Regions from separate parts of the Homo sapiens genome. Here regions 2, 3, 4, 5 and 6 are each linked to region 1. Evidence: fine-mapped expression QTL. A gene starts in region 1. Each other region holds a variant in brackets. All regions are shown on one strand. Distances are from middle to middle.

Region 1 (5,005 bases):
CAGGCTGGTCTCAAACTCCTGGGTTTAAGCGATTTTCACAAGTAGCTGGGATTACAGGTGTGTGCCACTGCACCCAGCAACTTCCTAAGGACTCGGAAAAGTTAACAATGGCAGGAAGATTGGAGAGAGGAACCAAAACTTGAAGAACCCTATATATTTTTCAATACTCTTATATTTAGGAATAGAATCAGTCAATATAAATTGTAAATGAAATGCTTCTTCACAGCCTTTGGAGGATGGGTTATACCAGTGATTGCCAAACTTGCAGCAATAGTTAAAAAAAATTATAGGGCTGCCTCCCCGTCTCTCCCTGGAGCCCAGAATCTCCAGGAGAAACCCAGAAATATACATGTTTAACAAAACCTTGATTTCTCGAGTTAGTAAATTTAGGAAAAATGGCTTATCCAAGCAAATAGAATTGGATTTCCTAAAAATTTAGTCCTCACCCAAGCTATTTATTTTGGAGGCAAAAGAAGAGTATCTTATGACCTAGAAGACTCTAAAAATGTGGTATGAAGACTGTCTTTATTAGAAAAACCAGGGGTTAACACATCTCATTTAACAATGTGTAGGGGGTCCCCAACTACACCACTTTCCAAATAGCGGTCTTATCAGATTTTAAAATGCTGATACAAAAGTTATGATCTTATAAAATGACATTTACTTCCAACATGGTGAAACCCCATCTTTACTAAAAATATTTTAAAAACCAGCTGGGTGTGGTGGTGGGCACCTGTAATCCCAGCTACTCTGGAGGCTGAGGCCAGAGAATTGCTTGAACCCAGGAGACGGAGATGGCAGTGAGACAACACGGTGCCACTGCACTCTAGCCTCGGGGACAGAGTGAGACTCCGTCTCAAAAAACAACAACAACAAAAAACCACATGTGGTAGTTAGTTTAAAAATCACAGACCTTAGGCTAGGTAATCAGCAAATATTTGCTAAATGAGTAATAGAAACTTTGTCAATATCATAGAGGTTCTTACAATAGATTCAAAAGGTAATTGGAACCAACATGCAATAAAAAGAGATTAACACAAAAATAGATAAGTGGATTACTATTTAATGAATATTTTTGGAAAAACTCTATTTCAGTTTAGAAAAGAATGAACTGAGCTCCTATATTTTCATTCTACACATTGCAGTGAATTCCAGATGGGACTCAAAGACTTAGCAACAACAACAGAACAGAACAGAATAATTTATATTTTCTGGCTCTTGCTGGGGAAATACATTCTAAATATTGAAGAAAAAGGAAATACTTTCAGGGAATGCATTTCTGAATATATATGTAAACTTTGCAAAGCTTTTTCTGTAATGAAATCTTTTAATATTTTGGTCAAGCAACAGAATGGAGGAAAAACAAATAATAAGCAAATACTTGCTTATTAATATGTTTAGGAAACACTTGGATAACACACATACACATATGAATATATACACACACACATATATATATATGTTCTACATGATCATACTAAAATTTAGATGACACTTCGTCCAGGAAGAAATATTGAAGAAAATGCAATCATACAAACACGACATTGCCACAGGGGAAAACATAACATCCATGGTAAATATAACGATACAAAAATCTGTTACATTTAGTAAAAAGTGCAGAAAACCGGCAAGAAAAATGCAGGAGCCTGATTTTGGTAGAAAGTGGCAAAAAGGCTCTAAATGCCCAGTGCAAATGGCTTGAAATTCCATTCCCAGGCCTGGGGCTCCACATTTCCAGGGGCTCTGCTTTCCAAAAGATATGGTTCAATGTCCCCTAGGTATAGTGCCTTCGGTCTGGACTGCAGATGGAGACCTGGGTCATCCCAGAAGCTTTGTAGTGTGAGAGATCAAACTGGCTGCTCTGCCAGGCCTCACCTATTTCCAGACTGGATGATTCCTGATACTTTTACTTTTGAGCCCAAACTAACTTCTGCATGGAGGTTCAGTACAGGTCAGGTGAGTGACGAATCTCCTGACAGGGCTACAGTGAACTTTCACAAGGTTAAACCTTCTAAACTTGGGAAGCTGCTTTGCAAAAATAAATAAATAAAATAAAAATCCCTTACTCAATTGTTGACTGGGTATTATTCCGGAAACAGGAAACAGGTTTTTCATTTCTGCCAGGTTGTGCCCCAGCTTCCATTTGCTAAGCAGCTTAGGGGAACATTGGATTAAAAACCACCCGTAAAGAAAAGGCATTAAGAAATTGATTTGAACGATTTGAAATTATTATCTTGAAAGATCAAAGAAACAGTGATTATGAACACCGGCTCTGGTGGGAAGCGGTTCTTGAAAGTTAAAGCATGGGGGAACTCGAGTACTCTGGAGCATCATCAGCATCTGTACAATGCAAGTGAACTCTGGAAGCTAGACGCATGCTTTGCACGTGGACACAGACACATGCTTGCACAGGACACATTTGCAATACATACATGTTTATACATGGACACATGTTTTGCACACGCTTGCACAGGACACGCTTGCACAGGACACATGCACAGGATGCATGTTTTGTACAGGACACATGTTTTGCACATGGAAACACATATCCATGCTTTGCAAAGGGACACAGGGAAGCATGCTTACAATGGATACAAGTTTACACACGGACGCATGTTTTGCACAGGACATATGCACAGGATGCATGTTTTGCACACGGACACACACGTTTACATAGGACAAGTGCACAGGACACGTTTTGCACCGGACGTATTCTGTGCACGGGACGCACGGTTTGCAGATGCAAGCACACACACTCCTCGGCGCGACGGGCGAAGCGGGGTGGGCAGCGACAGCGGAGTCCGGACCCAGGGACAGCGCCTCCGGGAACCTCGCCAAGGCGGCGGGAACTACAACTCCCGGCTCGGTCGCCTCGGGACGACGCGCGGCCCAGCGCAGACTGGCCCCGCCCAGCGGCCCCGCGCGGCCCGGCCCAGGTCCCGGCGCCCAGAGTCGCCGCGCGGCCGCCGGTGAGCCGCATGGAGCCCCGGGCGGCGGACGGCTGCTTCCTGGGCGACGTGGGTACGTGCGGGCGCCGCGGAGGTCAGAGCGAGGCAGCGGCGCCGGCTCCTGAGGCCGGCCGCGTATCCGATGGCCTGCGCCGGGGAGGTGGTGGCGCGCCCCGCGCTGGCTCCGTGGGCGGGGGCGTTTGGCGGGGTGGGCCGCGGTGAAAGCAGGGTCCCAGTGGTGCCGCGCATCCCAGACGGGCTCTCATGTCTGGTGCCTTGTCCCAGGCCAGCGCACTGCGGGGTTGCAGTCCGTGCGGCTCGCCAGGTGTGGGGTTTCGCAACCGCAAACCCACCGAGCGCCGCGCGCCCTGGGGAAGGTGCGGGACGCGTGCGGGGCCGTTGCCCAGTGGCGGGGGAGAGCCTGGGAAACGCCCACGGTGCTCCCTCTCGGGGAAGCCAGGCGCGAGCCCACGGTAAGAGCTAAACCCCCCTCCACTGGCGCGGGTGAGGCCGTGGCGCAGTGTCCGAGCATCCTGCAGAGGCGTCCGCGTGACCCCGACTCCGCTCCAGTGAAGGTGGCCTTGGGGCACCCCGGCACACTCCGAAAAGTGCCATCCCAGTTCGCAGCCTACTTTACCAAAATCCGAGCAGCCCAAGAATGAAATGGATTTGAGGGAAGGACACTCTTTGGGGAAGCAAATTTTTTTGCTGCCTATGAAGCAATAATATGGTCACTGAAATGAGCGACGGAAGCACTATGAAAGCCTAAAAAGAAAAAAAAAATCTAAAGCATATTCATCCTGGTAAAAACAGTAGTGCACCTAAGAGGGAAAAGTCTTAAGGGTAAATTTAGCTGAAGAGGAAGTTGCAGTCATAGCAAGGCAAAGATATTTTAATTGACTTTGCAAAATAACCACCTTTGACATGATCAAAGGTATCTAATAAGCATGTGTTTTTACTTGGCATTCCAGTCCAGGCAAGCACAAGACTTTGACCCTGACACTGTGATCTGCATTTGATTAGCTTAATTGAGTAAGCAGTGAATAGCTAACGGCAGAAGCTTATTTAAACACATATTTTAATATTTCTGTTCATGGCATCACTTCTGAGCATGTCTTCTGCATCGTTTGTTATGGAATGCATCTGTAGAAGAAAGGCACATTTTAAACTAATGAATCCGCAACTTTTGAGGTTCACTGGTATTTTTGACATTGTCATTTTTTATTTAATATATTTCTCCCCAAATAAGTTCTGCTGATGTTTTTTATTCCCAGTGTAATGAATAAGCTGAATGTGTTGGATCCAAAACAATACTGCCATTCCAGCAGCACCAGAGGCGAACCGTAGGAGCTTTAGACAATTTTAACATTCTGACCTCAAATTCTGGATGTGTGGTGTACCGCGACCAAAACATTTAGGTTTTGGGCTGTTGCGCAGTCTCTCATGCCTGTAATGCCAGCACTTTGGGAGGCCGAGGCAGGTGGATCACTTGAAGTCAGGAGTTCGAGACCAGCCTGGCCAACATGGCGAAACCCCGTCTCTACTAAAAATACAAAAATTAGCCGAGCATTGTGGCGGGTGCCTGTAGTTCCAGCTACTTGGGAGACTGAGGCAGAAGAATCACTCGAACCTGGAAGGCAGAGGTTGCAGTAAGCCGAGATTGGGCCATTGCACTCCAGCCTGGGTGACAAGAGCAAAACTCTGTCTCAAAATAAATAAATAAAAATACAAAAATTAGCCAAGCATAGTGGCGGGCACCTGTAATCTCAGCTACTGGGGAGGCTGAGGCAGGAGAATCACTTGAACCTGATAGGCAGAGGTTGTAGTGAGCTGAGATCATGCCATTGCACTCCAGCCTGGGCGACAGAGTGAGACTCCGTCTCAAAAATAAATAAAATAAATAAATAAAGAAATAAAGAAATTCTGCATTCCCTATGGACGTCCTTCTGTGGTAGATGAACCTCTAACCTACTGGCTGCTCCCCCACTCCCCCGTACGTTCCCCCCAGGGTCCTCCAGTAGAATTGTTTTTGTTTAAATCAGATTTCAGTGTTGACA
Region 2 (5,005 bases), 58 kb before region 1:
CCCAGCCCTCTTAGAGTCATTTTTCCCCCATATTGACCTCCAAAATTTTAATACCAGATATACACTGCATATCTGTTTATGCACTGTATGAGTAATTTTTTTTGCCCCCAGGAGCCAAATTTTGGTCCTCTGGGTGGATCAACATCACAATAAAAATGTATGGGCTTGATATGAAAAGGACTAACAGATAAGGTCCAGATAAGGAGAACAGCACCTATGAAGACTCTGAGACATATTTACAGGAGAGACGATGGCAAAATTTAATAATAAATGAATTCAGTTTTAGACATGCTGAATTTAAGGCACCTTTGAGATATCTCAGTGGCAATGTCAGTAGACAAGTGGAGATATGGGACTGAGGCTCAGAGGGAAGCATAAACCTACAAGGGAGGTCAAGAAGGGTGAACCAGTGATGTTAAGAAAAGAGGTATTTAAGAGGAAAAAACAGTCAACAGTGTCACGTGCTGCTGAGAGGTCAAGTCAGATGAGGACTAAATATATCCAACAGACAGAGTGAGCTGGAAACCATTGTATCCTCACCTGTTGACAGGGGTGAACGAAATAAATGTAACCCATGCAGACCCATCTGCTTGCCTCCAAAATCTATGCAGAATGAGAATCAGAAGAAGAAAAGTTAGGTTGTTGATCTTATAAAGCAAAAGTAAACATAATGAAAAATATTTTTTCCCAAAACAGTTCTCCATACCTGGTTCTGATAGTAAGGCTGATGATGTAAGTAAAATGAAAAACCCTCGATCTTCTAAGCATTTGATGATTGCCTTAAATAAAAAGGAAAAATTCAACTGAAGGAATATTCTGCAATCCCTCTCTTCTCCCTCTACCCATACTCATTAGTGAATATTGACCTCAAGAAAAGAAAAAATTCTGCAAATGTTATGGGAATCAGGGTAATTCTGTCCCCAGTATCAGAAACTTCAAGTTCCTTAGCTGAAATAATCTTGGCCCTGTTGGGTCTATATAAAATAACCAGAACATGAAAGGTTAGTTTTAGAACAGTGCTCAAGAACATGGCAGATCAATCAGAAAAGACTTATTTTTTTCACTGAGACAGCTGACATTTCATACCACTGCCTAAACAGCCAATATGTTACCATGTAGTCATTATAAACTCACGATGAATCAAACCTATAAGTAGCATCTTAAGCTCATATTTACATGAAAATTATCCCAAAACGCTGAATCTAAAAAGACTGCAAGATACCATCCAATAGAATACTTCTTTCTATGCATCTTAAGAAATGGAAAATAACAGAAAATAATCAAGTTCCAGGGCAACAAGAAATACAGATGAAAATAAATTCTTCCTCTCTTTTGTTCCCCTCTATTAGAGTCTTCAGTGGACTCTTGAGCTCAAGAAAAAAGTCTTGAAATTTTAATGCTTTCAGTAACTGGGGCAGTTTTGTCCCCAGGCAGCAGAAGTTGTCTAAAAGCTGTTGTTCTAAATCATGAATTTAATAGTTTTTCTTTTCCACTGCTTACCATTTCAAAAATCTATATACACATAAAAGATAAAATCCAATATTAGTACAATAATTTTTCAGTTAAACCACCTAAATAAAATATACCATTTTACAGAACATTTTATTTCAAAACTGAGAGGTGATAAGGCTACAAATATAAATCAATATATTATTTAATCACAATGAATATACAAAATAAGACTTTTTAAATTATTACATTACAATTAAGGTATGACACTAATATCTCACTCTCAAAAAGAATCACTGCTTTGAGTTTCAACAAGATTCTATGAGAGCCCCTATGTGTTGTATGTCACATGATGACTTACATATTTGTCTCCTCCATAGTCTCCTAAGCTCCTTGACTTACAGGAGCTATGATTTAAGAGCCTATTTCTTTAAGAGACAGGGTATCACTCTGTTACCCAGCCTGCAGCACAGTGGCACAGTAACAGCTCACTGCATCCTTGAACTCCCAGGCTCAAGCTATCCTCCCACCTCAGCCTTCGGAGTAGCCAGGACTACAGGTGCAGGCCATTATGCCTGGCTAGTTTAAAAAAAAAAAGTTTTTTAATTTTGGTAGAGATAAGATCTTGCTATGTTGCCCAGGCTGGTCTCAAACTCCTGGCCTCAAGCGATCCTCCCACCTTGGCCTCCCAAAGTAATGGGATTACAGATGTGTTCCACCATGCCAGACTTTAGGGACTACACTACTTTGTATCCTTGCTTCTTGCCCCTCCTGCCCAGTATGTGAATCAATCTTTTTTTTTTTTTTTTTTTTTTTTTTTTTTTGAGATGGAGTCTTGCTCTATCGCCCAGGCTGGAGTGCAGCTGCGCGATCTAGGCTCACTGCAAGCTCCGCCTCCTGGGTTCATGCCATTCTCCTGCCTCAGCCTCCCAAGTAGCTGGGACTACAGGCGCCCATCACCACACCCAGATAATTTTTTAGTACAGACAGGGTTTCACCATGTTAGTCAGGATGGTCTCGATCTCCTGACCTCGTGATCCGCCCGCCTTGGTCTCCCAAAGTGCTGGGATTACAGGCGTGAACCACCACGCCTGGCCGTGAATCATCCCTTTGTCCAGTGTATCTATGCTGTAGATGCTACCCACCCTCTGGGGCAATAGTAGTACTTCATAATGCCTGCACCACCTACCTCATTCATCACAAGGAGTACTCAAGTATAGCATAATAAATAAAATATTTTGAGATGGACAGTCCACACTCACATAACTTTTCTTACAGTATATTGTTGTAACTATTCCATTTTATTATTGTTGTTAATCTCTTACTGTGCCTAATTTATAAATTAAACTTTATCATAAGTATGCATGTA[T/C]AGAAAAAAACACAGTATACATAGGGTTCAGTACTATCCACAGTTTCAGGCATCCACTGGGGGTCTTGGAACATATACCCCACAGATACTGTATTACATTAATAATATATAAATAAATATTAAACATGAAACTCCTTTCAGCACAACTAATATATATCTATATCGATCTATATCTATATATCTATATCTATATCTATCTATCTATCTATCTATATATATATATAATATATATATATGTGCCATCTAGGCACAACTAATATATATCAATTAAAGAAAAACATAATAATTATATTTTAAATTAGTGATGCTTACCAATTGCTTGTTTTTAATACATTCTGTTAATTTATCTATATTTTCCCCTTGTCTGTTTGACAGTTCTACCTCATACAAATTGAAGCACAAATCTTGAAAACAGACTGTAGAGAAAACCAGAAAAACATTTCTTATTTTTAATACGCTATTATGTACTTACAGTCAATTTGTTCATTTTATATGTTGCAAAAATGAAAGAATAGAAATACTACTCAGAAACCTTTATCATTTACTGTTCTTGGTTATAAAACTCCCTCATAAAACATCACCAAAATAGTTATTTTAAAACAATGCTCTTATTTATACTGACACTGCTATAGGATTAACAAGACAAATACAAATACTACATGAATAAACATCAGTGCTCCATGAATTAACCTAAATGACCAAGAAATTTCCTTCTCATGGTTTTTCTTTGAGTTTAAAAGTACCTCTATAAATAAAACCAACAAAAACTCTGTCCTCGAGAGGAATAGTTACAAGTTTCCAAATGCTTTTAATATCTGCTTGCTTAATTGCATCAGTATTTCTATATTAAAGCTAGCCTTTGTCATCTTAGATGAAACTACCTTTCAGTTTCTAGTTGGCCTCCAAGGAACTGAAGAAAATAGTAACTCTACAGCTTTCTTACAAAAGACTCTTTTAAGAGTCACTTATGATGAAACAGAAGTGTGCATGTGTGAGTGTTTGGAAGAGAGCAGAAAATAACCAGAACAAAGCCCAGGACAAGTAGCGTGTTATTACATTTCAACAGACCTTTCTCCTCCAAGTAATTCTGTTTTCTGAAGGCAGCCTCTGGTAGTCTTTTTTTCAAGGAAGACACTTTCATTACATATTTAAAATCTAGTTCCTGCGGTCTGAAAAACAACACAACAGTATCAAGCAGAATAATAAACAGTGGATCTAAATTTTCTTAAGTTTTGGTTTTCTAATATAAATGTAAACAAAAATATAACCACAAAAAAGACCTTAAGTTGATAAGCTCCAGGTTAAATAATATGTGTATTTTTAAGTAGTACAGATTTTCAAATATATGACCCATAAACCATGGTCTGCAAATATGTTCACATCTTCTCAATACATGTATTTTCAGTACAGACAAAGTATCTAGATGTGTCAAAAAAATTATGTATACAGGAATAAGGAATTAAAAAAAATTATGCTATTTATGAGTTATTTGCCAGGCACGGTGGCTCACGCCTGTAATCCCAGCAACTTTGGGAGGCTGAGGCGGGTGGATCAGAAGGTCAGGAGATGGAGACCATCCTGGCTAACTCGGTGAAACCCCGTCTCTACTAAAAATACAAAAAATTAGCCGGATGTGGTGGTGGGCGCCTGTAGTCCCACCCAGCTACTCGGGAGGCTGAGGCAGGAGAATGGCGTGAACCCAGGAGGTGGAGCTTGCAGTGAGCTGAGATTGTGCCGCTGCACTCTAGCCTGGGCGACAGAGCGAGACTCCGTCTCAAAAAAAAAAAAAAAAAAAAAAAAAAGTTATTTCCTGACTACTTTTTCCTTTTTTTGTGTGTGAGATGGAGTCTGGCTCTGTCACCCAGGCTGGAGTGCAGTGGTGCGATCTCAGCTCACTGCAACCTCTGACTCCCGGGTTCAAGTGATTACCCTGCCTCAGCCTCCCGAATAGCTGGGATTACAAGCATGCCGCACCATGCCCAGCTAATTTTTGTATTTTCAGTGGAGACAGCGTTTCACCGTATTGGCCAGGCTGGTTTCCAACTCCTGACCTCAGGCAATCTGCTCACCTCGGCCTCCCAAAGTGCTGGGACTACAGGTGTAAGCCACTGTGCCCGGCACTCTGTTTCCTTTTTAAAAACTCATTTTAAAATGCTTTTACACTTATACAAAAGTTGCAAACATAGG
Region 3 (5,005 bases), 28 kb after region 1:
TCACCTGAGGTCAGGAGTTCGAAACCAGCCTGGCCAACTTGATGAAACCCCATCTCTACTAAAAATATAAAAATTAGGCGGGCATGGTGGTGGGTGCCTGTAATCCCAGCTACTCGGGAGGTTGAGGCAGGAGAATTGCTTGAATGCAGGAGGCGGAGGTTGCAGTGAGCTGAGATTGTGCCGCTGCACTCCAGCCTGGGTGACAGAGTAAGAGATTCTTGCCTCTGTCGCTTTTTTTCTGTCTCAAAAAACAAAAAACAAAAAACCTCAAAACCAAACAAACTCCCAAAGCCCACAAAAGGCAATCCCAGTGGACATCATGCCCCGAACTTCATTTCCTGGGCTCCCTTCCTCGGGTTCCTGGCTGTCCTTCCAGAGAAGGCCTACAGGACACATCCCGGTTCCAGGGGAAAGGGAGGCGTTTCCGATTCCCTCTGAGTTTGTGTTCCATTGCAGGTGTTGTGCTTCTTCCTGAAATTAACCTCACATCCTTCCTTGCTCCCTTTTTCAGAGACACCTCTGACTCTGTCACAGCTCTGCAGGGTGAACTTGAGGAAGGCCACTGGCGTCCGAGGGCTGGAGAAGATTGCCAAGTTAAACATCCCGCCCCGGCTCATTGATTACCTCTCCTACAACTGAATTGCAGGTGGGGTCCGGACCGTGGCTGCCCCCGTTGTGCCCAGCATTGCCCGGGTGAGGGCTCTGCCTGTTCCTCTGAAGCAGCGTGATTGCTGTAGATAGAACAACGCTCCTTCGAGTCCCTTCCTGCGATCCTGTTTAGGCTTCTCTCCTGGATCCTGGATAATGTTTCCAGGGTGTTGGGAAGGCCTGCGTCTCAGGTCACAGTTGTGGGTGTGGCCCTGCGCTGTTCTACAGAACCTACCCTCTCAATGGGCATGGGCCCAACCATCCAGTTTTCCTCTTTTACGGACCATCCTCAAAGGCACTCTCAGGACAGACGGCGTGGGGAGCACAGAGGAGGCTGGCAGAGCTGGGGACTGAGGGCATTGTTGCTGATTCTCACTCACCGGGGCAGCCTGCCGCAGATGCACAGGCCCCAGGTGCAGGCCACCACCTCCGGGTCGGCACCAGGACTGCCCTCGGTGCTCATAGGGAATGGCTGGGCCCACGGAAGGTCGGCCTGGGATGTGGCCTGGGACTGCTGCTCTGCTGGCTGCTGTGTGGATGCTTTTCCTGGAGCACTTTCCAAGGCATCCCCCAGCCCCAAGCCTGCGCGCATCTGTCACTCAGGGACTTTCTATGGGTCTTTGTGGGGGAAGGCCCTGGCTTTGTATTCCCCACAAGTAGCACTGAGTTTCTTAGGAAATTTGTCTTCAGTATTAGGTCTCCAACTCTTGTAAAAAGTTTATATGTAGGATAAAAACCTTTTAGAGGACACGTAGGCGGTACCACTAAGGTTTTGGTAATGAGCCATTCAAACCGACAGCAGTGTGAAGGTGTGTCAAGGTGTATATTCTCGTGGCTCGGCATTCTCAGTGCAAAGGCCTGTTTGGAGACTCTGTGGGAATTGTTTTTCATCTGTTTCTATGGTTGTCAAATGAATTCTTCACCCACCCTACAGTTTGCTAACTCCTTGAAGCTATCAAATTAGTAAGACCATCTATCACATCCAGCATTGTCCCAGTGCTTTGAGTTGGACGGGAATGGGACTCTGCAGCCAAGGCAGGATAAGAAAATCTTGCAATCCCGTCCTGCAGTGATAGAAACAGGTCGTTCTGCATTATAAGCCATAGGTGGAGCATTCGGTAGCGTATTCAGACTGCATGGGCCGGCCTAGGAGTCTTTGCCTTCATAAATTTTAAGAACCCCGCCCACAACAGGGAGTTAAACTGGAGGACTTTGCATGATTAGTTCAGGGATGAGTGGTTTCTGGGGCATCTGAGGTCAGGAGTTTGAAACCAGCCTGGCCAACTTGATGAAACCCCATCTCTACCCATTCTGGAGAACAGGTCACGCCTGTCCTGGAGACAGTGTGCCGGGAAAAGGGAACGTGGTACTCACTGGATGCACCCAGGCCGGCCCGAGCCTCCCACCGCAGACAGTGTGGAACAGAGTGAGCCTGAGCTGCCCAAGGCGATGCCCTTTGTGCTGTATGACTGGAGGCCTCTCCGCGTGGGTACTTGGGGGTGGGGCCACAAATCTGGCGAAAAACTTCATGCTGGCCGCCGTGAGGTTTTACTCCAGCGTTCCCGCCATTGTCATGGCGGGTCTTCGTCCTAAACTGAGAAGAAAAGCATTCCTGTTTGATCACCGCCTTAGTTACCAGTTCTGGATCAGTCAGTGTTTCTGCATGGAATAACAACCATTAAAAAAAGCACTGGGTTCTGCCCTTTCATCTTTGTAAGAGATTCTTGCCTCTAGCAATGACAACCTGTGATGTCTCACAGTAGAGCACTTAG[C/T]GCAGAATCAGGTCCCCACGGCTGTTGCTCAATAAAAGTGGCGGAATAAAGTGCATCCCTGTGTTCACACGACTCTTTTCTTATGGGGCAGAAACACCAAGATGGGCGCATCCTGTGTGGATGGAGAGGGGTGGCTCTCGTCTTGCTGTGTCCCAGGTCGTTTGGCAGCGCTGTGCTTGCCAGGGAGCCACACTTTCCCATCTCTTCCCCAGGTCTCCTGATGCCAACTTCAGCACCCCCCTTATGTGGACTTTTCTTGGGGGAGACAGACGCTGTCCACGGGACCAGGTGACTGGGATTTTGGGTCCTCCCCTGCCCTTATGCAGGGCTGTGACTGCACACAGGTTTATCTGCTTCTCTACTCTGAGTTGTTCCGGAAAGCTGCAAAACCGAGATAATGGATCAGACTTGGAGCATTGAAGGGGTCTTGATGACCAACCACTGAGCCAAGCCCGTCACCTCAGGTGGACGAGATTGGGTCCCCAGCGTCAGGTTTTGTGTTTTTTTTTTTTTTTTTTGAGGTGGAGTCTCGCTCTGTCGCCCAGGCTGTAGTGCAGTGGCACGATCTCGGCTCACTGCAAGCTCCGTCTCCTGGGTTCACGCCATTCTCCTGCCTCAGCCTCCTGAGTAGCTAGGACTACAGGCACCCGCCACCACACCCGGCTAATTTTTTTTTTTGGTATTTTTAGTACAGACGAGGCTTCACCATGTTAGCAAGGATGGTCTCGATCTCCTGACCTCGTGATCCTCCTGCCTCGGCCTCCCAAAGTGCTGGGTTTACAGGTGTGAGCCACTGCGCCCGGCCGCCTCAGGTTTTTATGAGGCTGAAATTAAATGATTGAAAGATGCCTTGGCTGGGTGGGGTGGCTTATGTCTATAATCCTAGCACTTTGGGGAGCCAAGGTGGGCAGATCACTTGGGCCAGGAGTTTGAGACTAGCCTGGCCAAGATGTTGAAACCCTGTCTCTACTGAAAATACAAAAATAAGCCAGCTGTGGTGGTGTATGGTTGTAATCCCAGCTAGTCAGCAGGCCGAAGCAGGAGAATCGCTTGAACTTGGAAACGGAGGTTGCAGTGAGCCAAGATCGTGCCACTGCACTCCAGCCTGGGAGACAGAGTGAGACTCTGTCCCCACAAAAAAGAAAAAAAAAAGATGCCTTGAAAAGCCTAAAGTGGTCCCCAAATATGAAAGTTACATTGACTGTTGTGTGGTTTTGTTGATGTTTGTAGATCTTGCAGCTGTGTGAACTATTCCCGCCTTAAGATCATACCATCTATTTCAGGAGTCCTGCAGTCATAAGACTTCTCAGTTTACATTTTCAAATGCAGTGTGCAGTGGACAGATTTGGAGCAGATGTTTGCAACATATATAACAAGTAATTGGCAAGCAAAATATATAAAGATCTTATGATAGATCATTAAAATGGGCCAGGTGCTGTGGCTTATGCCTGTCATCCCAGCACTTTGGGAGGCTGAGGCTGGAGGATTGAGCTTAGGAGTTTGAGACAAGCTTGGGCAGCCTAAAGAGACCCCATTTCTACAAAAAAGAAAAGATAAACAACCCAATAGAAAAAAACTGGGCAAAGAATAAGAACAGGGCTTTATAAAAGAGGGATCTTGAAATGTCCACTCCCAGGAAAGGATGCTGAGAAGTGATCAGGGAAATTCAAATTAATATTTAATTCAACAAAGTGATTACCATTGAATGTCGCCATTGAGACAGTCATTGAAAGGTCTGAGTTTCACAGTGTGGATGGGTGGGCCATGTGGGCAAATGGAAATGCACAGGCTGCTAGTGGGGAATACATTGATGATAGGTCTGTTTTGGAGAGCTATTGGCTGATATTAATGCAATGAAAAATGTGCATACCCCTTGTCCCCAGTAATTCTACTTTATATAAATAATACCCTAAAGAAACTCTCAGGCAATATCACAAGGAGACATGTATGAGGTTGTTTACTGCAGCGATACCTGTAATAGTGAAAACCCCACCAGTTGGGAGTAAGATGTAGAATATCATATACATCTTACATGTCATACCTACACTCGATAAAAGTTAAGATGGATTAGAACTACACGTTTTAACACGAATAGATCTCAAAAATATAGTGGTCGATCAAACAATTGCCAGACTTTTCTGTGTATGGTATGAGTCAATTTGTATAATTTTTTTAAAAAGCCCATCTAATAATTCATACGTATGCAGTAAATACATAAAATCATGGAAACCACACACTGGCATCATGGGGATACCAGTGGCTTGGGGATAGGAACGCAGGGAACTTCACCTCTGTTGTATTGCATTTCTTAAAAAGTGATGTTGGCCAGGAAGAGTGGCTCACGCCTGTAATCCCAGCACTTTGGGAGGCTGAGGCGGGAGGATTGCTTGAGCTCAGAAGTTCGAGACCAGCCTCGGCAACATAGTGAGACCCTATCTCTAAAAAAAAAAAAAAAAAAAAAAAGATACGAAGCACATGATAGAATGCTACTATTTGCTCATGTTGGGGGGCAAATAGAAACATGGGGTTACTCTCCATGTGTTTTGATGTTTGATTTTTTCATAATAAAAATTGAATGCATAGAG
Region 4 (5,005 bases), 94 kb before region 1:
TTGTGTAACAGCAAATAAAACCATTTAAGATTATAGTTTTTACAAGGGTGGTAAAACCTTTAAAACAGAGCATAATGTGCATCGTATGCCTTTCTGACATTAGCATGCAAAAACAAAGCTATTTGTTAAAATAGACTTATTTTTGCTCCAACTAAGTAAACATGTAAAATTATTTTTAATAAGCTCAATAGCTTAGAAGGCATCTTGTTTAAAATGAAAATAATTTAAAACAATATCTAGCACTGCAACCCAAAGCTAACAGACAACTGCAATGCCACTGTGACATATTTCAGCAAAATATAAAAAATGAAAACTTTCCAAGTTGTAGAACATTGGTTTTTCAAATGTAAGACTGTTCACATGTGTATTCACATGTTCACAAGTTTTCCAAAGGGAAAATACTAATTTTTTATTGGCATCATCCATATCCAGGCAGGCTGTAGTTGAGTCACCTGAAGAAACACAAAATTGATAAAGAACTTCTTAAAATAATACGAACAAGAAATATTTTATAAGCGGGATGCTCTAATGGGGAAAACGCCTATGCATTCTAAGGTTACATTATGTTCTGTACTGACGATCCAAGTTAACAGCAAGTGAAAATGCACATTAGATAAAATAGGTAATTTTAGTAGATGGTTACTTCATTTAGTGATAATTTAGGAATTCCTATTTATGCCAAATAGCAATTCCACCCCTAAACAAACACTTTAAATTTATAGCATGAAGTATGTAAACAACAGTTTCCCAACTGTTTCCCTTAGACACAAATGTCAATATTTGCCATCAACAACTCCAACTCACATGGGAAAGTTACATAAAAAGTGTTCTTACCAATAGCTACTCCTAAATGGAGCTGCTATTTTTTCTATGTTTTCTATAAAGTTATTTACATCTGTAACAAGGATTCCACTATTTTCAAAGACTTCTCTGGGGATAGTAGGCTTGTCTGTTAAAAAAAAAAAAAAACAACTTTTGGTTAATATAATTAATGTACTTTTATATAACAGGACCTGGTTTTTTATTTTAAAAAATCTGTGGAACTTCCTCGTGTGAGGGGTAGGGGGAGAAAAGGTGTTGGGTTCCAAATTAAGAAAAGATTTGAAGCTTTGGAAATAGATGCCTCCATCGGGGGTGGTGGTTAAAGTACTGAAAAAAAATCCCTGAAAAATGATAACTATGGTTCTTTACGTAAATTTTTCTTAACACTTTTTTTTTTTTTTTTTTAAAGATAGATAGGGTCTTGTTCTGCCACCCAGGTTACAGTGCAGTGGTGTGATGACGGCTCACTGCAGCCTCGAGCAATCCTTCTGCCTTAACCCAAGTAGCTAGGACTATAGGCACACATCACCACACCTGCCAACTTCTGTAGAGATGAGGTCTCGCTAAGTTGCCCAGGCTGGCCTCAAATTCCTGGGCTCAGTGATCCACCTGCTTCAGCCTCCCAAAGTGCTGGCATTACAGGCGTGAGCCACTGTCCCTGGCTGCCCCACAAATTTTTTAAAAGCAACCTCTGCCTCCGGGGTTCAAGCCATTCTCCTGCCTCGGCCTCCCAAGTAGCTGGGACTACTGGCATGAACCACCACACCTGACTAATTTTTGTATTTTTAGTAGAGATGGGGTTTCACCATGTTGGCTAGGCTGGTCTCT[A/TA]ACTCCTGACCTCAAGTGATCCGCCCGCCTCGGCCTCCCAAAGTGCTGGGATTACAGGTGTGAGCCACTGCACCCAGCCCCAGTATTGATTTAAAAAATAATACGGTATAACTACTTATACTGTATTGAGTATTATAAGTAATCTAGAACTGACTTACATACATAGGAGGATTGTGTAGTTACCTGCAAATACTACATTTTATATAAGGGCTTCAGCTTCAGCAGATTTGGGTGATTCTGGTATCCATGGGATGCCAAGCCATTTAGATACCTGATACTCTTCATCAGGTATCTAACTTTGACATTCCTAGAGCTGACCAATTTTGGCATTAACTGAGTAAAATGCGCCTGTGAATTACCTGTTAGGAGGACAGCAAACCTGGCATCAATATGCTGAATTTGCAGGTTTAGCAAACATTTCAGAATTTCTGCTTTTGTTGATGATCGAGAGTCACACTGGTGATAATGAAGCAATTCAATGATATTTGCACTCTGAAATGACTTCAACATTATGTTCTTCTTATGTGCAGTTGAATCCACTCTGTGAAAGATACATAGGCATATTAAAATATTTTTCAGTTTTATTCTTAGGACTTTTTCTTGCCTTCAGTTTAACCATTCAAACTCATGAGTTCCTCTGCCTTTCTTCTTGACGTTCTTTTTCATGACACACTTTGGTTACCTCAAAACATCACAATTGTACCTACTCCTTTTGTAAATGTGGATTTTAAACATGGGCCTCATTCTAAGAGGGACATCATGCATCTACCTACGACCAATCAAGCCATGTGGCTTGGCAAGCCTTTCATGAATTTCGAGTGGGCCTTATTGCGTTGTATATTTGTAGAGCAATGCACATCTATACTTCTCATACCTTGTGGGCAGATAATCGCCAACTTCATTAAAATTAGGTAGCAGCCAGAATTTTCTTGGTTTCTTGCTTCCCTGAAAATTCTATCACTACTAGGAAAATGTGTTAACTCAGTATGTTTAAATTTTTAGCATTTCTGTCTCTGCTCGACTCCCGTCTCTCTAGTTTTCATCACTTACATTCTCATGCTTGTTGGAGAAAACCCAAATCACACCCATTCCCATAACCCTAGTGATAATCACTCTTAACATCATGAATTAATTTCCTTTCACTTTTTCCTGTATAAATTTTTTATGACATCATACTGAACATAGTTACATGATACCAACTTTTATGCCATCCCTCTTTCTATGAATAGAAACTTTTTACATGCTTCTATTGTGTAAGTTTTGGGTGGGCATTATTTTGTATAAACTTTAAAATATTTAACTGTAGTCTGCATATCTCCCTCCTAGAGATGGAACTGAGGTTGGTTTTGCAATGACTGATAACCACCTAGAATTTTGGGTAAATTCCACAAAAGGTCAAAGGATATGAAGAGTTTTCTAATGAGTTCTCAATAATACATAACGCCTGTTACATAATGCCAGAGTGGTATAATATGAAGAGCATACTGCAGCGCCAACAGCAGTGAGTACGGGCATGTACCACATAATGATGTTTCAGTCAATGACGGACCACATATACAATGGTGGTCCCATAAAATTATACTACTGTAATTTACTGAACCTTTTTTGTGTTTAGACACACAGATACCACCATTGCATTAAATCTGCCTACAGTATTCAGTACAGTCACATGTACAGGTTTGCAATCTAGGAGTAGGCTCTACCATATCAGTTTGTGTAAGTACACTCTATGTCTGCACATAGACAAAATCGTCTTATGACGTTTCTCAGGCTGTATCCCCGTCGTTAAGTGACATGACTTTCTCTACCCAAAGCCCTAGAAGTGCTAGATTGATTTATGCTTATTTTATAGGTGTGCTGTGGTACATCAGAACCTTAAATGTGCTTCTCTACTTACCGAAGTTGACGTTTTTCCCCTCAAGTGCTGGTTACTGAAGTCCGCTGTGAATGGTCATACCCTTGACCTGCTGAAGCCTTTGCACCCTCCTTTCCTGCCAAGGAAACCTCTGTGCTCCTTCTCTCCTTTGCTAGCTCCACTTCAAGAGAAAAGCTTTCTGAGATTCTGTTCCTCAAAGGTCACATACAGCTAACAGTCGTTTCGTCTTTCTGGGATTGAAACCCAGCTTCATAACTTACTACTTGTTTGACCTTGGTCATGTTTGTTATCTACTCTGCTTCAGTTCTGCATTATAAAAGTGAGGATTTGCTATCTAGCTCCTGGGGATGAAGTCTGAATGAAAATGGATGCACCTAACAGTGCCTGAAATCCTTATTTCACAAGGGCTTGTCAGGTCTGCTTTTCCAATTGGTCCTGCTTGTGAGAATGTGGAGGAATCTCTCAGCCCCAGCTCTCTTCAGCCAAGGAATCAAACATGTATTTTTTTCTTTTATAAATTACAGCTTTAGACTTAGTGAAGTTTGCGTATTTATAAGCCTCTTCTTTTAGGGTACAACTGAATTAAGGATAGATTATGGTCTTAATTTTTCCATTCTCCTTAAAGTGGTGGCAACTTATAAGTATCCAAAAAAGCATTAATGGTACAAGTTCCATATATTTTTTAAAGTTTGTAGTAGTAGGGCTTAAATAGAATATGGACATTTCATGACTGCTAAGTTTGACTCCCTTACTTCTGTTAGTCTAGATAAGTACATGCCTCATACTGTTGGCTACGGTCACAGCACATAGCTTCCTTCATTGAATACAGAGCCAGCAGCCCTCATGCTCTTTACTGATGAAGGCCATTCCACTGCAGCACTAGGCTAGAGCCCATGGAACATGAGGCGTTTCTCTGCTACCCCAGCAGGGCAGGAGGAACCATACACACAGCAAGTCCTTACCTTTCATCTTCTTTTAGCTTTTTATTTTCCCTGTAGTGAAGCAACCACTTCCATCTTCCATTTCCATTTAGTTTTTCCAGGATTTTGATAATTTCCTTCAGTTGAACTACAAAACAATAAATGTAGCAAAAGAAGATGACAAGTTTAAGGTACTTTTGGCTCATGCCAAGCCCAGTGATAATTATTTGTAAAACAAGAAAAAAACAGACTAAGACCCATGGTTGAGTACACACCATCACTGTCACTTATGTGGTTGGGCAGCATCCTGCTCTCACAAGCCCCTCAGCCTGGTCCCACCTGCTCACACTATGGTGGGAGATAACTCTGTAGACACGAACACAGTGGAGTGGTCACCAGCAACTAGAGTTCTGTGTACAAATTGTGTGACAGAAGAGAAGCAGGAGGCCCCGATGCAGTAGAGAAATGAAGTTTCTAAATACAGAATCCTTTTTTTTTGAGACAGGGTTTCGGCTGTCACCCAGGCTGGAGTGTGGTGGCATGATCTCAGCTCACTATA
Region 5 (5,005 bases), 68 kb after region 1:
CTCCAATTTCTGGGCTCCAGTGATCCTCCCGCCTCAGCCTCCAGAGTAGCTGGGATGACAGGCTCACACCACCATGCCTGGCTAAGTTTTGTATTTTTTGTAGGGATGCAGCCTCGCTATGGTGCCCAGGCTGGTCTTGAAATCCTAGCCTCTAGTGACCTGCCTGCCTTGGCCTCCCAAAGCTCTGGGATTAAATGCGTGACTCACCATACCTGGCCCCAAAACGTCTTAATTCCAGACCCTCCTTGCTCACTGGAAACTCCTTTTCTGATGCCTTGGGTGAGCTGTGGTCTTCATCGTGGCCTCCCTTTATTTTTTTTTTTCCAGCTATCTACATTTTCACTTATTATCTGATTTTGAGGAGACTTGGAAATTTATAACATTTCTCTATGGCTCACCCACCATCTTGGGTCTCTAAAATTCACTTCCAGCAGGGCCAAGGAAATATTGAAGACTACACTGTTGTTTTTCCAAATGTTATCACAGGAGCAAGAGCTGAAGACCAGAATCTTCCTCCCGTCTTCCCTTCATGCTCATTCTCTCTCTCTCCCCCTCATTCTTCCCCAGTCTCTCTCCCACCCCTCTCTTCTCTCTTTCCCTGGGCTACACAATGATAACATACAAAATAGAAACAGAAAACTAAAATTAGATGTGTGTGACCAAGGATCCTGCTTTGAGCAAAGGAAAAATAAACCATACCCACATTTCTATTTTTCCCAGGACTTGAAGAACAACCTTGGCTATTTGGGCAGTTGGCTATTCCTGGGAACATTTCAGAAATAACTCATGTTTGTTTATTATTGAGTATTTATAACAGTTTCAGAGTAGGTTTCCAATAGCCCCACGGAGGACAGCGTGGGCTCCGGGAGGGATGGGCAGGAGGGCCTCTGGCCAGGAGGCGGGAAGGGCACCATCACTGCTGGGTCTCACACCCCCACCTGCTCCTTCAAATTTCTGCTTGCTGAGGCCACAACACAGGGGTGACTTCCCGAAACACAGGGCTCGGAGCTTTGTTTCTCTGTGAGTCTTCCCTGAAAGGACGTAAGAGCCTAAATTGGATTACTTCTTGCATTTGATGGAGTGTGGTGCACACACACACACACACACACACACACACACAGGCAAACACTCTGTGCTCAGGCATGGATTAGAGGTGACATTTCTGGAGGCATGAATGGATGGCGGATTCCTGAGCAATCACCCACAGACCTGTGCGCCCAGGAATGCCGCCGGCTGCAGGGCGCTGACATCACCCCTCTCCTCCGGGCCCTGGGAGAAGTGCTCGGACCCCAGGTCTCAGGGCGGTTATTTTTCGCCAGCAGACCGATGCTGTGGCATTCTCACGGTGTGCTCCAGGGAGCCAGGCTTTCGGGGAGGGCCCCTTTGGCCTTTTGAGCTCCCAGTCTCTGCCTCTGCTGTGAAAGAACCAAGAGTTACAGGTGGTTAAAGGTGGAGGGGACTTGGGACCCGTTTGCTCAGCATCTTCCACTGGTAGATGAGGCCAGAGGTCAAACAGCCTACTCAAGGTCAAACAGCCTGTTCAAGGTCAAACAGTCAGCGACAAAGCCACTGTCCCCTTCAGCTCGCCCCTGCACTGCTCTTTGTTTATTACAGTGATCCTCAAACAAGGTAGTCTCAGGACTCACTTTGTACTCTGAAAAACCACTGAGGCTCCCGAGGAGCTCTTGTTTATATGGCCGCATCTATCAATGTATGTTGCATTAACAATTACAGCTGAGAAACTTAAAAAATATGCATGTATTAATCTATCAGTCGATTAATAAACCTGTTGCACACCAACATCAAATATTCTTATAGGAAATAATTATATTTTTTCAAGACAAAAGAATTCAGTGAAAAGAAGGGCATTATTTTACATCTTGCAAGTCCTTTTAATGTATGGCTTAATAGAGGACGTTAAGGTTGTCATATCTCCTTCCGCATTCAATCGGAATTGAACCGCGTGTCATGTAGCTTCTGGAAACTTCACTGTGAGAGAATGAGAATGAAGAAGTCAATTAGTGTCTTAGGATTATTATGAAAGGATCTGGAACCCTTCAGCTGTTCCTCGGTGACACTTTGAGAACCACTGGCCAATCGTATGTTTCTGTTGCCTCTCCGGCAGCACTCTTTTTGACTCTGGCCCACGCAGTCGTTCGATAAACATGCATTGAGGAACTACCAGGTGTTAAGCTGGGAATTTAAAAACAAATGTCGCATATGTAAATGCTGGTCCAAAAACTCAGTTGCAGAAGAAATAGAGCACACTTTATTTTCCTGTAGTAACTTGACATCTGAGTGCAGGTCCGGGTGGCAGGGTCCTGGGAAATTCCAGTCAGTCCTTCCCCGGCTTTCTCCACCCAAAGACTGTGGGGTAACCTTGGGGGTCTCAGGGCCCTCATTTCCTTGTGGGGCCTTTATGCTCTGTGTGCACGGGGGCAGCTGAGACTCCGAGGCCTGGTCTCATGGCACTCTGGCTTCCCGGGCAGGAGGTGAAGGAGGTGGGGGGGTCCATCTGCCCTCTCCAGAGTTCAGCTCTGTCCCTCAGAGGAGCTGAGAACATGGGCACAGTTCCCCAGGGTGCATGTTCTCTCTCTCCCGTCTCATTCTCTCTCGTTCTCTCTTGTTCTCTTTCTCTCTCCTCT[T/C]GTTCTCTCTGTCTTGTTCTTTCTCTCCTGTCTCTCTCTTGTTCTCTCTCCTTCTTCTTTCTCTTGTTCTCTCTCTCCTCTCTCTTGTTCTCTCTCTCTCGTTCTTCTCTCTCCTCTCTCTTACATTCTCACTCTCTCATCTCACTCTCATTCTCTCCTCTCTCTTGTTCTCTCTCTCTCGTTCTTCTCTCTCTCTCCTCTCTCTCTTGCATTCTCACTCTCTCATCTCTATCTCATTCTCTCCTCTCGTTCTTTCTCTCTCTCTCATTCTCTCTCCTCTCTCTCGCTTTCTCTCTTGTTCTCTCTCATTCTGTCTCTCTCATTCTCTCGTTCTTCTCTCTCTCTCTGCTTCTCTCTCTTGTGTTCTTGCTCTCTCTTCTCACTCTTATTCTTGCTTTCCTCTCCCTCGTTCTCTCTCTTGTTCTCTTTCTCTCTGATTCTCTCCCTCGTTCTGTCTCTCTCGTTCTTCTCTCTCTCTCCTCTCTCGTTCTCCTTTTCTCTCATTTTCTCTCTCCTCTCTCTCTTGTTCTCTCGTTCTCTTTCTCTCATTCTTCTCTCTCTCTCCTTCTCTCTCTTTCCCTCTGTTGTTGTTTCTACCTCTCCCTTGGCTGCTTCCTATCAGGCCTGATTAATCTCTTGTTGGGGAGATCCTTCTCCCCTCAAGCTTCTTCAAGCCCTCTCTGCCCACTCCACCTTCCCCTTTCTCCCAGGGGCTTGGGGTTTTAGAACCAAAAGCTAGAAAAATGTGCAGGCTGTTTCTGCCCCGGCCTGCCTCACGCCTCCCTCAGGATTAAATGAGATAATAGTACATGTGCCTGGCTCACACAAGGACCCACTGAAGCCGCTGTTGGTGTCCTTGCGATTTGTACTCAGGGATATTGAGGCAGAAAGGTAAACAGGGAAGAGGAAAGGGGAAAATTCAGGGAGAGGAAACCTGAGGCATTCACATTTCAACACAGGCCATGACAGCGGCCCCTGGTCCCTGGTCTTCTGCAGCTGCTGGGGTCCCTCAGTACTAAAGGGAGGGGTGGGGAGCATCCCCCCATGAGGGGGGCATCCCCTGCTGCCCTCTCCTCAGCCACTCTCCTTTCTCAGGTCATGGCATGGATTTCATTTCCAGGAAATCCACTTCTAGCTCACTCGTCAGCAGGCCCAGTTGAAGGGACACAGCCTCATGGGGTCTCAGCAGGCCCCATTGGTGGAATGAAGCCTTGTGGGACCAGCACTCCCGGTTGGTGGGACGCAGGCCTGTGAGCTCAGCAGGCTCATTTGGTGGGACACAGCCTCATAGGGTCTCAGCATCAGCAGAGCTTTGGAGCCTCCAGTCCCCTCTGACACTGCCCTGCTGGGACTGCCCAGCCTCTGCTCAGACGCTTCCAGGGATGGGCCCTTCCTTTCCGGCTCCTGAGTCCTCCTCCTGGTGACTCGCCTGCTGCCCCAGGCGTTTTCAGGGGTGTCAGTCCCTATGTGTCCTCATCTGTCTAGGACCAGTGCCCCTGGGAGCACATGCCTGGCCGTCTGCTGGGAGCCGCTGGGCCAGCCCTGGGTAATTTCTGTGGGACATGCAGACCACGGCGGGCGCACCCTGTAGGTAGTCAGTAATGGCTCACGGATGACGGGTGTGAGCTGGAGCAGCAGTGGGCAGGGGCAGCTCACCTCTTTGCAGGAGGCGGGTGGGGCGGCCGCTCCGGGTGGCTGAAACCGATGGGGCAGGGCTGTCTTGACCACAGCTCGGGCCCAGGCTGCTCATCATCACTCCCTTTGCCCACCTGGATGGGGCTGCTCATGCATGGCCACTACGAACTGCACTCTGCATGTGTGTATGTGTGTGTATGTGTGTATGTGCATGTGTGTATGTGTGTATGTGCATGCGTGTGCGTGTATGTGTGTATGCGTGTGTGTGTGTGTGTGTGTGTGTGTGTGTGGTGGCCTGCGCTCTGTACACACAACCGCCCAGCAGAGAGAAAGAAGAGCACGGGATGGGAGAATCTCCTTTCTTTCCTCTGACGCTGTCAAGCCTTGTGGGTAAATCTGGAAGACGTGGTTGGTGGACAGTTAAGATTCCATTAAAAATGGGAAAGAGCCCCTGCATGTTGCCTTTAGGCCGTGATGCTCACAGCTGGATGAGTGTCTCGCCTGGCTGGTGCTTGCTTCCTTTGAACTCCTTTGCGAAGCAGGCTGGTGGTCTCCCGTGTGGGGATCAGACATGGCATTGGGTCCTGGCTGCACCCCACAGCTGGACCCCGAGCTCTTGTGAGTCTGGGCAGCGTCACCCTTCTGTTCTCCTGGAGTGGAAACGGGAGATGGGTGGATATGTTGCAGAAAAGCAGGATGACGGCAAGCCCCGAGGGCCCCAGCCT
Region 6 (5,005 bases), 22 kb after region 1:
AAAACCAAAAAGACCAACCAATCGAGGATTAGGCTCAGGACCTGTCTATACCAAAAGTTTTAGCCAAAGTGACTGTTAGCACAGGGTTTTTATCAACCCAACTTAAATGTTTTGTTGAGGGAAAATTTTAGTTTCATCATCTTATCCAAATTCTGGGTGTAGTGTAGGATAAAAACAAAACTGTTTAGGATGGCTGGGCACTGTGGCTCACAGCCATAGTCTCAGCACTTTGGGAGGCTGAGGCGGGAGGATTGCTTGAGCCCGGGAGTTTCAGCCAGCCTGGGAAACATAGCAAGTCCCCTTCTCTTAACAACAAGAACAAACCTGTTTGGGAACAGGAAGATCATGAATTCCCCCTGATGACAGCCATTTGAGCTTAGTTATGTGTAGTTTTTTATTGGAGAATCTTACTCACTTTCATGTGCCACTTTTCAGTCTTTTTAGTGGAAAAGATTCGTTTTGTGTAGGAATAGTTGTTGAGGTACTTTTAATTTTTTTATACACTGTCTTAGAAGTATCTCCATTGGAAGCAGGTGTAAGCGTTTCCAGCCGAGCCGTTCCTCTGGCAGCTGGATCCGTTTCTATGAACACAGCGCAGTGCGTTCATATCAAGCCTTTATGAGCTCAGTACACACGAGTTCCATTTTTACCTTCGTTCTGTTTGGTGTGGTTGTAGGGAAAGGGATCAACTTAGTGTTTAAAGCAAACATCCTTTCTGTATCAGTTAGGACTTCATGTCAGTTGGACACCTTTGCGAGTAACAGGAAGCCACTTCCACTGGTAAACAATGGCGGGCATTTCTAGTTCAGGTGACTTCAGGGCTGAGACGCAGAGCAGGATTAGGGGCGGCTGGACCGGAGGTTCCGTGGTGTCACCCAGGCCTCAGTTTCTTTGAACGTTGCGATTCTGCTTTCCTCAGTATTGGCTTCATCCTAAGCCTCCGGCCTCCCTGAGCAAGGTCACGGGGCTGCAGTGGCTTCAGGCCTACACGCCAGACGTTTCCTGTTTTAAGCCTTCTGGAGGCTCTTTCAGCGGAGTGGAAAATCCCTTTTCACACACCCCTCCCCAGTCCCTTTGCCCAAACTTTGCCAAATTCTGATGGGCTGAAGCCTGGGTCATTAGAACTAATTACTGTGGTCAGGGGAGAGGGATTGGACTAGGCGGGACCCACGCTGGAGCTGAAGTCAGGTCTGCTCCCGCCCCCACCACATTACCAGGTGGCAGCACAGTCGGGGGTGGGGGCTGGAAAGGAAGGGGCAGCTGTGAGGCCCACTGTCGCCCTAAAGTGGGGTTCCCACAGCTCTCCCCGGGAGTTTGCATGCCCCTGGGGAGTTAGAGGTGAACGTGGCTTTCTTGGGGAAGCCTCCGCACAGTGACTGTTGGTGTTGGCTCGATGCTGTGGGTAGCATCCAGCCATCAGCTCCACGCGGGATTCCTGGTTCCCATCCTACTCTTGGGTGGTCTCCTCTAGTACCCCTTGTGAGAGCAGATGGATCATCATCTTCTTCTTAGAAACCATTTTTTCATTGCGGAAAATTTCAAACATACAGAGGAGAGAGAAACAACAGCATCCCCTACGTCCTCACAAACAGATTTTTAAAAAGTAGTGATTCTGATCTTTTGGGGTCAGGTCACAGATCCCTCGGGAAACCAAAGGAAAGCCAGGGACCGTGTCTCTAGAAAAACAGAAGAGTGGAAAGTCCCTTTTCCTGCACCCCTCCCCAGTCCCTTTGCCCAAACTTTGCCAAATTCTGATCGGCTCAAGCCTGGATCATTTGAACCAGTTACTGTGGAGAGGGGAGAGGGATTGAACCAGTCGGGGCCCACATGAGTGCAGGTGCTTTCATGTGCGGTTTGAGAGCTGAGCTGTGAGGCAGAGCCACGTTGCACCCCACGGGGGACGTGGAGACCGTTGTTCTTGTTCTTTGTAGGCAGTGAGGCGAGTCCAGGAACCAGATTGTATTTGCAAAGGAGGAGGGCTGGGGAGGGTGAAAGTCCGGTTATGATGGTGAAGTAATTTTTAATCTGATCACTGACAGTGAATGTTGAACTCTGCCAGGAGTGTTCGGAAGCGGCTCCCTGAGGACGGTCCTGCTTCCACCTTTGTTCTTAGCACTGGCCCTGGCACAATTTAAAAAATTTTTTTAAAATTGTTGTTTAATTTTTAAAAAATTTTTTAATTATAATTTTTTAAATTTAATTTTTTTTTTCAATTTCTCTTGTGGTAACAAGCACCTATTGAGCTATTTGTGTTTATGTTCCAGGATTGTGCCAGTCTTGGCGTGCTAAGGTCTTAGGC[G/A]GTCCCGTCACGTCACTGGCCACGGGTTCTCTGAATCCACTTTAATCCTATTTTGTGTTGAAAGCAGGATTTTGGTAATGAGCCTGTGTTGACCCCTTTTCTCTGAAGCACGAAGTTCAGAGCTTTTAATTCCCTGCTTGTTTCCTGGCTCCCTGTCTTTGTCTCTCTCTGTCTCTGTGTCTCTGTCTCTGCCTCAGTCTTTCTCTTGCCTCTCAGTTCAAGGTATGTTACCATCCTTGCTTCACACAAAGTTACTTTCTTTCCCTCTCCTACCCTCTTTCTCTCTTCCTTCTTTCCTCTGTATCTGTTCCCTTCTTTCTTTCTTTTTTTTCTGAGATGGAGTCTCGTTCTGTCACCCAGGCTGGAGTGCAGTGGTGTGATCTCTGCTCACTGCAGCCTCCATCTCCCTGGTTCAAGCGATTCTCATGCCTGAGCCTCCTGAGTAGCTGGGATTATAGATGTGCACCACCACGCCCAGGTAATTTTTGGATTTTTAGTAGAGACGAGGTTTCACCATATTGGCTAGGCTGGTCTTGAACTCCTGACCTCAGGTGATCTGCCCGCCTCAGGCTCTCAAAGTGCTGGGATTACAGGCATGAGCCACCGTGTCTGGCCCTGTTTTCCTCTAACGAGTACCTGTTTATGTTCTCTTTCTCACTATGGGCCTCACTCTGTCATCCAGGCTGGAGTGCAGTGGTACGATCGTGGCTTGCTGCAGCCTCAACCTCCCGGGCTCAAGTGATCCTCCTACCTCAGCCTCCAGAGTAGGTGGGACCACAGATGTGTGCCATCACGCCCCCCGGGTAATTTTTAAATTTTTGTAGAGCTAGGGTCTCACTATGTTGCGCAGGCTGGTCTCGATTTCCTGGGCCCAAGAGATCCGCTCGCCTCGAATTCCCAAAGTGCTGAGATTACAGGCGTGAGCCCTGTACCTGGCCCAAGCATATATTTTTAATGAACATAGCTGATCGAGTTTCATCTCTGACTCTCTTCTTGGCTCACTCAGTGCTATACTTTCAGGATCCATCCATGTAGCTGCCTGCACCCCTGGCCTGGTGTTTCCCTTCAATCCCTTATTCACAATTTCATTTCCTTCCTTATTCACCTTCCTTCCCTTCCACCCAATCAAATGATGCCAAACACACATTTTGAAAAGATGTACATTGGGAAGGCTGCCTCCCTGCAAGAGCCCCTGGCCAAGGCCTCGTCTGTGGAGCGTGGCAGGGAGCGTGATTTTTAGAGCTCTTTCCAGCCATGGTTTTCTCCCTGATCGTGAGAGAGTAGCTGTGCCTCCCTTGGGCCTCTTTCTCTGTTTTTCTTCTTTTGTTAAAATAGAGACCATCTCTTTCTCTCCCAATTGGCAAGAATATTGCCAGAATTAATGACATGAGAGAAAGCTACTTGAACTTTAGATTCTGTGGATGGTACAATTTGTTTTTCATTACAAGCATATGTTTAGTGTTAAAATTTACTTCGTGTTATGATTGCAACATTATACTGGAGGAAAACCCCTTATGTGAAAGAGAGGTTGAATTGTGGGGAAATATTTCTTTAATCTATTGCTTTTGAATATTATTTTTTTGTAGTACATTTCTGCCAAATTCAGGACATAGATAAGTTAGCATTTTTCCTAGTTGAGAGATCCTTTTCCTGTTCTGACTTCTGAGTTTTGGCTGCGGGAAGTGGAAAGAACTTTCTTAAATTATGTCATCACTTTGGAGGGCTGGGGCGTTCTTAGGATCCCTCCACGAATGCTGTTATGAGCATGGTTCTTATGTGCTTTTAGGGGATTAAAATATTTTAAAGCAGAAAGCGGGATTTTTCCGATGCTTTTTGAGCTAGAGGAACTAGAAAATGTAAAAGCGTTCCACCTCTCAGCTCCTCTTTTGACCCTCTGAGACTGTCGGGAAGTGATGGCATGCTAGTGTCTGATTGTTTTAAAATCCCACTTTTGATAATACTTTATGTTTGTGGTTTGAATCTATCATTTGGCGAATTATTTTACTGATGCTGGGCGATTTGCTTGGCTTCTTTAAAACACTTCTCTTTTATTTGTTTTCTCTTATAACCTCCTTTGTTACTTGAGGAACAGACTTCGAATAAAATGGCATTTTCTTTCAAAAGAATTCTGAAGCCCTGGGGGATTCCATTGTATCGGATCAGTGATGGCTGTGCCCTAAGAATGATGTGTTACAAAAATCATATTTTTATCAAAATTTTTTTTAGTGTGTTGCAAAATGCCATATGTGACCAGGTGTGGTGGCTCATGCCCGTAGCCAGGAGTTCGAGACCAACCTGGCCAACACGGCAAAACCCCGTCTCTACAAAAAATAGAAAAATTAGCCGGGCATGGTGGCACACCTGTCATCCCAGCAACTCGGGAGGCTGAGGCAGGAGAATCGCTTGAACCCTGGAGGCGGAGGTTGCAGTGAGCCGAGATCATGTCACTGCACTCCAGCCTGGGCAACAGAGTGAGACTCTGTCTCAAAAAAAAAAACCCAAAACCAGCCATATTTAGCTACTAATTCCTTGCATCTTTCTGAATGTCTGCTCTTTTTTTTAAAAAAAAATTTTTTTTTACCTTTACTTTTAATCAGCTTGATGAATGTCTGCTCTTATCGTGAGAAAGTTGAGGAGTGCAGAGCTTACTCTCTTCTCTGAATTGCCTACTGTTTTGGGTACGTTATCTGTTTTCCTTTTGTAAAA

Evidence for each region.
Region 2: its variant is fine-mapped to the expression of ASB13 in whole blood (TOPMed, PIP 0.98).
Region 3: its variant is fine-mapped to the expression of ASB13 in whole blood (TOPMed, PIP above 0.99).
Region 4: its variant is fine-mapped to the expression of ASB13 in T cells (TOPMed, PIP above 0.99).
Region 5: its variant is fine-mapped to the expression of ASB13 in whole blood (TOPMed, PIP above 0.99).
Region 6: its variant is fine-mapped to the expression of ASB13 in caudate (GTEx, PIP above 0.99). The same link has a PIP of 0.9 or more in putamen.

The regions. Positions count from the first base shown.
Region 1 is chr10:5,664,525-5,669,529 of GRCh38, reverse strand. It overlaps ASB13 (ankyrin repeat and SOCS box containing 13), which reads left to right and starts at 2,935. Exons shown (of 6, transcript NM_024701.4): 1 at 2,935-3,021. The coding sequence starts at 2,979. RefSeq lists silencers at 2,932-3,001, 3,302-3,351.
Region 2 is chr10:5,722,659-5,727,663 of GRCh38, reverse strand. It overlaps TASOR2 (transcription activation suppressor family member 2), which reads right to left. Exons shown (of 22, transcript NM_001321783.2): 8 at 3,887-3,987; 9 at 3,131-3,234; 10 at 707-779; 11 at 541-603. Among named protein-coding and RNA genes, the nearest start is that of TASOR2, 40 kb to the right of the region's middle. The variant T/C (reference allele first, on the strand shown) is at 2,819.
Region 3 is chr10:5,636,337-5,641,341 of GRCh38, reverse strand. It overlaps ASB13 (ankyrin repeat and SOCS box containing 13), which reads left to right. Exons shown (of 6, transcript NM_024701.4): 6 at 512-2,475. The coding sequence ends at 639. Among named protein-coding and RNA genes, the nearest start is that of LINC02677, 21 kb to the right of the region's middle. The variant C/T (reference allele first, on the strand shown) is at 2,421.
Region 4 is chr10:5,758,476-5,763,480 of GRCh38, reverse strand. It overlaps TASOR2 (transcription activation suppressor family member 2), which reads right to left. Exons shown (of 22, transcript NM_001321783.2): 19 at 4,489-4,594; 20 at 2,010-2,191; 21 at 835-949; 22 at 1-452. The coding sequence ends at 449. Among named protein-coding and RNA genes, the nearest start is that of GDI2, 52 kb to the left of the region's middle. The variant A/TA (reference allele first, on the strand shown) is at 1,651.
Region 5 is chr10:5,596,300-5,601,304 of GRCh38, reverse strand. No RefSeq gene overlaps it. Among named protein-coding and RNA genes, the nearest start is that of LASTR, 2.7 kb to the right of the region's middle. RefSeq lists enhancers at 3,827-4,699, 4,985-5,005. The variant T/C (reference allele first, on the strand shown) is at 2,646.
Region 6 is chr10:5,642,445-5,647,449 of GRCh38, reverse strand. All of the region lies in intron 4 of ASB13 (ankyrin repeat and SOCS box containing 13), which reads left to right. Among named protein-coding and RNA genes, the nearest start is that of ASB13, 22 kb to the left of the region's middle. The variant G/A (reference allele first, on the strand shown) is at 2,300.